Homo sapiens: one gene and its partners. The protein of the gene in region 2 interacts with the protein of the main gene of each other region in a pairwise test. Each region holds a gene or a part of one and is shown on either strand. Other genes may lie near its edges.

Evidence for each region.
Region 1: the proteins of CIMIP1 (region 2) and KRTAP19-6 interact in binary tests that used the Homo sapiens proteins (3 or more experiments, as listed by UniProt).
Region 3: the proteins of CIMIP1 (region 2) and KRTAP3-1 interact in binary tests that used the Homo sapiens proteins (3 or more experiments, as listed by UniProt).

The regions. Positions count from the first base shown.
Region 1 is NC_000021.9:30,541,022-30,543,514, forward strand, and holds KRTAP19-6 (keratin-associated protein 19-6), read right to left. Parts: upstream 844-2,493; 5' UTR 813-843; coding exon 636-812; 3' UTR 514-635; downstream 1-513. UniProt on the Homo sapiens protein: In the hair cortex, hair keratin intermediate filaments are embedded in an interfilamentous matrix, consisting of hair keratin-associated proteins (KRTAP), which are essential for the formation of a rigid and resistant hair shaft through their extensive disulfide bond cross-linking with abundant cysteine residues of hair keratins.
Region 2 is NC_000020.11:58,153,782-58,157,444, reverse strand, and holds part of CIMIP1 (ciliary microtubule inner protein 1), read right to left. Parts: intron 1,978-3,663; coding exon 1,876-1,977; intron 748-1,875; exon of another isoform or gene 616-747; intron 1-615.
Region 3 is NC_000017.11:41,007,874-41,010,644, reverse strand, and holds KRTAP3-1 (keratin-associated protein 3-1), read left to right. Parts: upstream 1-1,516; 5' UTR 1,517-1,570; coding exon 1,571-1,867; 3' UTR 1,868-2,124; downstream 2,125-2,771. UniProt on the Homo sapiens protein: In the hair cortex, hair keratin intermediate filaments are embedded in an interfilamentous matrix, consisting of hair keratin-associated proteins (KRTAP), which are essential for the formation of a rigid and resistant hair shaft through their extensive disulfide bond cross-linking with abundant cysteine residues of hair keratins.

The DNA of each region.
Region 1 (2,493 bases), on a different chromosome or scaffold from region 2:
AAACCTCAGAATACAAACACACTAATTGGAATGAAGATTGCAATAAGTTATTGTTTAAAACTAAGTCATAAAAATAATAGTGTACATAATCATATTCTAAAAACAAAATCACACACAAAACCACTGAAAACAGATAAAAAGTAAAGACAGATGAAAGTACACAGTGATTTTGTCCATCTTATTCTTTTATATCTTCAGGACTTAGAATGGTGCCCAAATTTGGAGACACACAATGAATATATGTTGAATAAAATATATTATTGAGGCAAAACTGTTGAAATAAAAACACCAATTCAGAGGAAAGAAGACAAACAGCTTGATTGAAGTCTCATCAATGCATTTGAAATGTACTAAAATGAATTGATAAAGCCATGTTTGCTATTCAAGTTAAACGTGTTTATTTAAAACTATTTTAAAATACATGTCACAACAGATGTCAGTGACTAAATAATAATAGGTGAAACCCTGATTCAATGTAATGATTCCAGATTCTTCCATAAAAACTGATGGCTAGTTCCTTCTGGAGCATGAAGCCAAAAAATGGTAGGTATTTTCTCTACATTGAGAAAAGTGTTCGCCTTGCTGAAGCATACGGGCAAGATCTTGGAGTTAGAGTATGAGAATCAGCAAGTTTTTTAGTAGAATCCAGAGAATCCATATCCTTCACGGCATGATGGGCGGCAGCAGCCATATCTATAGCCTCCATAGCCAGAGCCATATCTGTAGCCTCCACAGCCACAGCCATAGCCCAGACCACCAAAGCCTCCACAGCCATATCCCAGGCCTCTGTAGTAGCTGCCATAGTATCTCATGGTGTCAGGGACTAGAGATTCAGTTCAATGCTAATGATGAGTTTCCTGAGTGTAGGTGTCTCTAACTTCTCAGAATGATTTTATACTCTAAGTAGTGGGTGTCATGAACAACAATGACAGGTGATCTTATTTCCACATAACAGAATAATTTTAAGTCTAACAATTGTTTATTTTTTTTCTTTTCTTATGTAACAAAGGGTCCAAACTATTATTTAAAGACTTTTAGTCTTTAGTTTGCATTCCTAAGAACAAAATATTTTGAAGATGAAAAATGATTATAGCCACTTCAAAGGCCAGGCTGGTGTTGTAATTAAAATGGTCTAATCGGGTTGATAGCTTCCAGTAACGCTGTAATTACATAACCTCATATTGCTTTTCTTTTTAATTTGCAGTCCATCGTCTTGGTTACTTCATTCCCAGAACCCAAGGACTTCTCTTCATGGTAGTCAGGGCATAGTCACAAAGTCATTAGTGATTTCCAGTAGTCAAATTTAGAGGAAACCTTGGTTTTTGACTCATTTGAACTTTAATTGACCTTTGACATTGCTAACCTTCCATCCATTCATTCTTTTGTAAAGCTTTCTTGCCTTAATTTCTATGAGAAACCTTCAATTAGCTTCCTCTGCCAATTTTTTGTTAGGCTTCTTCCCAATTTTTTATTCATCCATTAACTTCAAAAGTGTACCTTTTCCTCTGCATACACTTTTCCCATGAAGTTCCATTAAATATTATTTTTCTTTTTTCAAATTTTATTTTTAAGAATACATAGTAGAGTATATATATCTATGGGGTATATGAAATACTTTTATACAGACATGACAATGCATACTAATCACTGGTTAATGGAGTAATAATCACTGGTAAATGATAAATAGGGTATCCATCCCCTCAAGCATTTATCCTTTGTGTTAAAGCAATTCAATTACACTCTCTTATTTTAAAATGTTCGATTAAATCAATAATTTAATTTAAATGCAATTTAATTATACATTTTAAAATAACTAAGAGAGTATAACTTAGTATGGCCACACTTTTGTGCTATCAAATACTAGGTCTTATTCATCATTTCTATTCCTTTGTACCCATTAACCACCCCTACTCCTCCATCACTCACATCCCTCCCCACCCCTACCCTGCACCCACCTACTCCCCTTTCCATTCTCTGTTAACCATCCTTCTAGTCTCTATCTCCATGAGTTCAATTGTTTTCAATTTTTAGCTCCCACAAATAAGTGAGAACATACAAAGTTTGTTTTTCTGTGCCTGACTTATTTCACTTAGCATAATGACGACCAGTTCCATCCATTCTGTTGCAAATGACAGGATCTCATTATTTTTTATGGTTGACTAGTACTCCATTGTGTATACATACCACATTTTCTTTATCCATTCATCTGTTGGTGGAAAATTAGGTTGCTTCCAAATCTTTGCTATTATGAACAGTGCTGCAACAAACATGGGAGTGCACATATCTCTTTGATATACTGTTTTCCCTTCCTTTGGATGTATACCAGGCCTCCATAGTAGCTGCTGTAGTAGCTCATGGTGTCAGGGACTAGAGATTAGGTTTGATGCTAAAGATGAGTTTAGCACCAGCAGTGGGATTTCTGTGTCATATGGTAGCTTCATTCTTTGTTTTTTGAGAAACCTCCAAACTGTTCTCCATAGTGGTTGTACTAAT
Region 2 (3,663 bases):
GTATATACGTATACATGAACATACATTTGAGGAATATTTGAGGGTAACATTTAAAAGCAGGGCTCTGGAATCAGACACACTTGCTGTGTGGCCAGAGAAAGGAATTCAGCTTTTTTAAGCTTCAGCTTTCCCATCTGCAAAATGGGTTTGAGGATGATAATATCCGGGGCTGCAGTGGAAGTAAGATGAGACACCCAATGTAAAGCAGTCACCACGGTGAGCGGCTAAGAGATAATAATAGCTTGAGCTGGTGGGGTGGTTACTCTTACAGGTCAAGGGATGTGTAGGAAAACCTCTGGAAGGAGCACCCCCAAAATGTTAATCATGGGTAAGAGCCTATATGTGGGTTTTAATTATATTATATTTTGGTGTATTTCTAAATATTTTTTAGCAGTGACTCTATATTGCTTTATATTTGGGGTAAAAACTGTCAACATAACTCAGTGGAGCTCATTCATTCATTCATTCATTGGGGCTCACAGATGCATACCCCCCAAATGCTCACTATGTGCCAGCTACCCCATCAGACCACGAGCATGCCAGGCAAAAGGCTGCAGCTGAACTCCTCCTGCCCTGCGGCCTTCATCTTGGGTTTTCATCTGCTCTCCCCATCAGCACGCAGAACCACCTTCTCCATAGCTGGGCAGAGGGCAGAACTCCCAGCCAAAATGACAGACCCATGAGACATATGGAGCTCAACTGTTTCTAGAGGGATCTGAGCCATGTCCGCCGTGGTGCAGGCTTCAGGTGAGAGCATCGTCTAAGGCCTCTTTTCTCTGGGTTTGGCCTGGTCACTCCTGTCCCTCTCCCCACAATCTTTTCTCCACTAGCAATGAGAGCCATCTTTCCAATAGGCAGGTCTTGCCTTTCCATGGCCCTGCTTACAACCCTCCAGCGGCTTCTCTAAATTGGACTCCAATTGCAACTCCTTCTTCTAGCCTGCCCACTTTTCCACTCACATCCCTTCTCCACCCACACCTTCTCCTCCTGCCCCCACCCTCCACCCAAGCTCCTGTCGCATCGCCTTGCCTTGCTGTTCCTGAAACATAGCAGCCTGTGTTCTATCTCAGGGCTTTCATACATGCTGTTCCCTGCGCCTAGAATACTTTTCCTAGGGCTGGTGCCTGGTCATCCTTCAGTCCTCAGCTCAAAGGGCCCCTTCCCTGACCACCCCGCCCTCTCTTATCCTGTGACACACCACCGGCCTGTTTCCTCCATGGTGCTAGCATAGCGTATCCAAATGGTGTTGATTTTCTTGGTTAATGTTGGTTCTCTAGACCCAGACATGTGGGCTGGGGTCTTGCCTTCTTGTTCATTACTGTTTTCCCAACCAAGCTGTTGCACCTTAGTAATAGCTGACTGTCATCGGCACTCTCTAAACATGCTGGGCAGCCTGCTGAACCCTGAGGGTACTCCCTGAAGTAGGTGCTTCATTAACCCCCATTGTATAAGACAGGCAGGGGAGACACAGAGAGGTCAAGCCACTTGCCCAAGACCACACAGAAGGTGAGCAGCCTATCAGCACAGGGATCTGGTGGTCTGATTCCAGAGTCCCTGCCTGGGTCTGCCCTGCCTTCCTGCCCACACCCTGGAAATGTTTGCTGAAAGAACGCATGAAGACCCCATTTTCCTGCCTTCTCTCTGCTTCTGCAGAGCAGGAGGTCATGGTGCTTGCACTTGTAGACTTTAGCCTGGCATGTTTCCCATGGCTGGGTTTGGGAAGGACGTGGACCTGGACTCTGCACCTGGCACTGCTGTGCTCTTACCTTCAGTGCTGGCTTTGCACATCTGGAGCCATCAGTTTCCACTGGGGCTTATTTCTTACTTAGGAAAATGAGTATTTTAAAAAAATGAGTATTTAAAAACGTTTCAAACCTTGATGTACTTCTCCACTGGGGTCACCGGCCGGATGCGGAAACGCTCAGGAAGCTCGATTTTGGGCTTTGGGGTGGGGAGATCTTCTTCACACTTGATCAACTGAAACAGAATCCCCAGAGATGGGAAGTCTTACGTGAAGCTGGGGGAAATGTACTGAAACAGAATCCCCAGAGACGGGAAGCCTCAGGTGAAGCTGGGGGAGTGTCCTCCCCATTGCTTCCCCTAGAAGGCGCATTTTATAGACACAGAAGTGGGGCATGGAAATGGGAGGCAGAGGCTTGTCTTAGTTACACCGTTAGGAAAGTAGGGTGGGGACCTCAACGCAGGCCTGCTGCACCCAAAGCTGAGACCCATCTCCATCCCCTCCTGCTGCTCACCACAGCCTCCTGATTTACATCCCCTGTGGGGGAATTTGAGAAAACGTTACCAGTTACGGACTCAAGTTTTAAAATGCCAAAAAGGGTTGAGTGTGGTGGCTCATGCCTGTAATCCCAACACTTTGGGAGGCCGAGGTGGGAGGATTGCTTGAGCTCAGGAGTTCAAGACCAGCCTGGGCAACTTAGCAAGACTCCATCTCTTCAAAAAATACAAAAATTAGCTGGGCATGATGGCATGTGCCTGTGGTCCCAGCTACTTGGGAGCCAAGGTGACAGGATGGCTTCAGCCTGGAGGTGGATGCTGCAGTGAGCTGAGATCATGCCACTGCACTCCAGCCTGGGTGACAGATCCAGACCCTGTCTCAAACAACAACAAACAAACTAACAAAAAATGCCAAAAAGTTTTCAGGACCGAACTTTAAAATATTAGAGGAGAGCGTCCACTCCCCTTTTTAATTTTTCAAGCAATATCAAGCTTTTTGAAAACCCAATTTAATTACATATAAAGAATATTAATATAGACTCCTTATGCATATTATATTAATAAGAACTCATTCTATGCATAAAATTTCAAACTGTGGAACCCTCTAAGAATTAAAAACACCCTCATTAAGAACAGCATAATTTCAAAGCTCGTAGGATGGGATGAATTACAAATGGGCTTTACACTGCTGTGAATCATAGATACTTTGACTGATGTGGTGTTTTAATTAATTCTGCATCTCTTGTGTTCTGTCCTGAAGTTTGAGAGGTTGCAGATTGGTGGCCACCACCCCACCAGAACCCACATAAGCATTTCATTTCTAGACTCAGAAAATTTCATGTAAACATCTGGCTTTCTGGACTCTCTTGAGTGATGGGAATATGCAGTTGGCTTTCCCATATGGTTTCACTTGGCTGGGCTCATGCTGGCTGCCTCTTTGGACAGGACCAGTGGCCTCTTTGCCTGAGTCTCCACCCCTTCTGATTAATTATGCTTGGCCCTGTCTCCTGTTTCTGTCACCTAGCTGGTCCCTGTAGACTTCTGGACTTGTCATCTTTAGGGAATACCGACAGCATTTTCCCAAGAATCCCTCATATGTCACTTGGCCTCCAGGCCAGGTGAGGTGTCCATAGCCTTCTTGTATCTGCACCTCACAGTCGCTCAGTTAGGCAGGTGAGGACTCTCATCCCACTTTACAGATGGGAAGTCTGAGGTCAGGTGGCTGTGGCATCAGACCCACCTGCTTCTCACCTGAGTAGGGTCCTTATCAGTTGTGTGACTTTGCAGGTCTTGGAGCTCAATTTCCTAATTTGTAAATGGGCATAAAACAACACCTGTCTCTGCACCGGGGTTCTTGTCCAGATTTGATCATCTGGTTCTGCCGAAGCACCTAGAACATGCCTGGCATGTGGTCAGTGCCCAGGA
Region 3 (2,771 bases), on a different chromosome or scaffold from region 2:
CTTCTGATTCCTCTGCATTGTGCAATTTTCTACTTTAGAACTTGAGCCATCTTATCTGAAAAAATGGGTCAAGAAAATATGTACATGTTTTTAAGCCTTTCTAAGTAAGCCATTTCTAAAGGTTTTACCAGTTTAGTATTTTTCATATTCTAAAGTAATTCTAAATCATCATACTAAATTTTCTACCTTTATCTACTTTTAAAACTTTATTTTTAGAGTTTTAGTGGTTTAGATGAAACTCGGAAATGTCTCTATTCTGGACCACAGAGCCTGGAAGTAAGACAGGGGTGTTCAATGTTTTGGCTTCCCTGGGCCACATTGAAAGAAGAATTGTCTTGGGCCACACATAAAATACACTAACACTAATGACAGCTGATGAGCAAAAAAAGAAAAAAAATCACAAAAAAATCTCATAATGTTTTAAGAAAGTTTATGAATTTGTGTTGTGCTGCATTCAATGCCTTTCTGGGCCACAGGTTGAACAAGCTTGCTGTAAGATGTTGCTAAATCTCCCCAAGTATGTTTCATAAAGCACTGACCTATAGAGCTAATCTCTGAAAACAAACAAAAAGCAGTCCATGGTCAAGTAAGTTTGGAGAAAAATATATGCTATATCTCTGTATTGAAAAGTCATAGAGCATTTTAGCACATTAAAGGCTCCGAGAGGCCCAACAATGAAGAATTCAGCATTTCCCAAACTTACTTACCAGAAAACACTTTCAAGTCCCTTGGAACCAGTGTTCATGGAACTCAGTCTGGTAAATACTGCATCATTTAGCTTCTGAATGGCCCAATACAACCAGCCTTTTGGTTATAAATAATCTCCATTTATAACACAGTTGGATGGAGCTTAAAGGACACCCATCTTTGTCACCCATGAAGGTCTTCATTCCCACCTGCATGTTCTTACCAAGTTATTGTTCAGAGCATATTTGAAAGGAATGCAGAACAAACGATTTGTTATAGCTCTGTTTGAAAGTGCCTCTTTACACAAAACCAAAATCTATTTCTCTATAGATTCTATCCATTCATCTTCATTCAGTTTATTGGAGCCACAAATAATAAATCTAAAATGTTATATCACTTTTTCAGCCTGAGGGCCTAAAGGATCACATAGAACCTGTAGTCACTGGTAGAACAGCAAACAAAAAGCTTACTTGTCCTCTTCATCTGAAAAGTAAACAAAAGAAGTGGGAAACGTTTGCAGATGCCTGGCATACCGAGCCATTATTAGTGAGGGTATAATGATTAGAAGATAATGGCCCGGTACCTTTGAAGACTGGAATGAAGATTTCTGTGTAGTGACACACTGGCAATGTGAATAGTCCTAATTTGACAACAAAACAACCTAAATCTCTTTTATGAGGTGAGCAGTGTATCTTAGGTAATAAACACTTAAGTAATTAGGCATTTTTTATGGAAATAACTATAAACTGAAACATGGGGGAAAAACCCTCAGTAATAGGCTGACGCCCAGGGAGATGGGTATATAAGAGCCAGAGCAGAAGAGAGGAGCATCGAGACACCAACAGACTTCTCTCAACTCAACAAAAACCCACCTCCCATTGCCATGTATTGCTGTGCTCTCCGCTCCTGCAGCGTCCCCACCGGCCCTGCCACCACCTTCTGCTCATTTGATAAAAGCTGCCGCTGTGGAGTCTGCCTACCCAGCACCTGCCCACATGAGATCAGCCTCCTTCAGCCCATCTGCTGTGACACCTGCCCCCCACCCTGCTGCAAGCCTGATACCTATGTGCCAACTTGCTGGCTGCTCAACAACTGTCACCCGACTCCCGGACTGAGTGGGATCAACCTGACCACCTATGTTCAGCCTGGCTGTGAGAGTCCCTGTGAGCCCCGCTGTTAACCAGCCGAGTCTGCACAGGTTCCGTGAGGTGGCTGCCCAATGTCCTCTGCACCATCTGGGCTTCAGCACTCACTACTGCCTACATCAAGGCTAAGGCCATCCCAATCCCCGGGGCCAAGTCTTGATGAATCTTCTTAATTATTTGCACATTTGGGTACCATTGGAGACCTCCCTTCTGTCTTTTAGGCTATTTCATCACTCTTTGAGAAATAACCATTTTGACCATTTGTTAATAAACTTTATTCTGGCTTAGCAAATATGACCTTGTGATTATTTATTTTCATGTCTCCCATTAGGGAAAGTGGAATGCCTACCTAAACCTGAACAGTAGGTTATCACACTATCCAAGATTTACCCCAACAGAATAAGAGCTCTCATAGTGGAATTTATCGAAAAAATAGATACTGGTTATTTGTGATAAGTTAAAAAGTAAAAAATGTGGTAGTTCATTTTATAGAAGCTTTTTATTTAACAGATATTTATTTAATAGATATTATTGGAAGACATCCACTGTGCAAGCACTATGCTAGAGTCTAGAGATTAACAGAATGTTTTAAAAATACTTGATTTTAGTTTCCATTGATTCTGACATTGATTTTTCTTTCTTCCTTAATTGACTAAATGAATTGATCACTGTGCTGGTGTGTATAAATAATTTGATTATCCTAGTCCTCACAGTCATCTGAAATTCTGAGCTCAAAATGCAAAGCAATTTTGAGAAGTGTATATATCCATTTCTTCATATATGCTGTCTTCCAAAACAATCCATTTTTAATTAATGTTAGCATTTATCGAGTATTCATTGATTCCTCAAATGGGGCTTACATTGGTTTACATTAGTCATGACTATGATTAGAAGTTTGCTAGTCTAAGTGACATATAATATCATGACATTGAAATATGC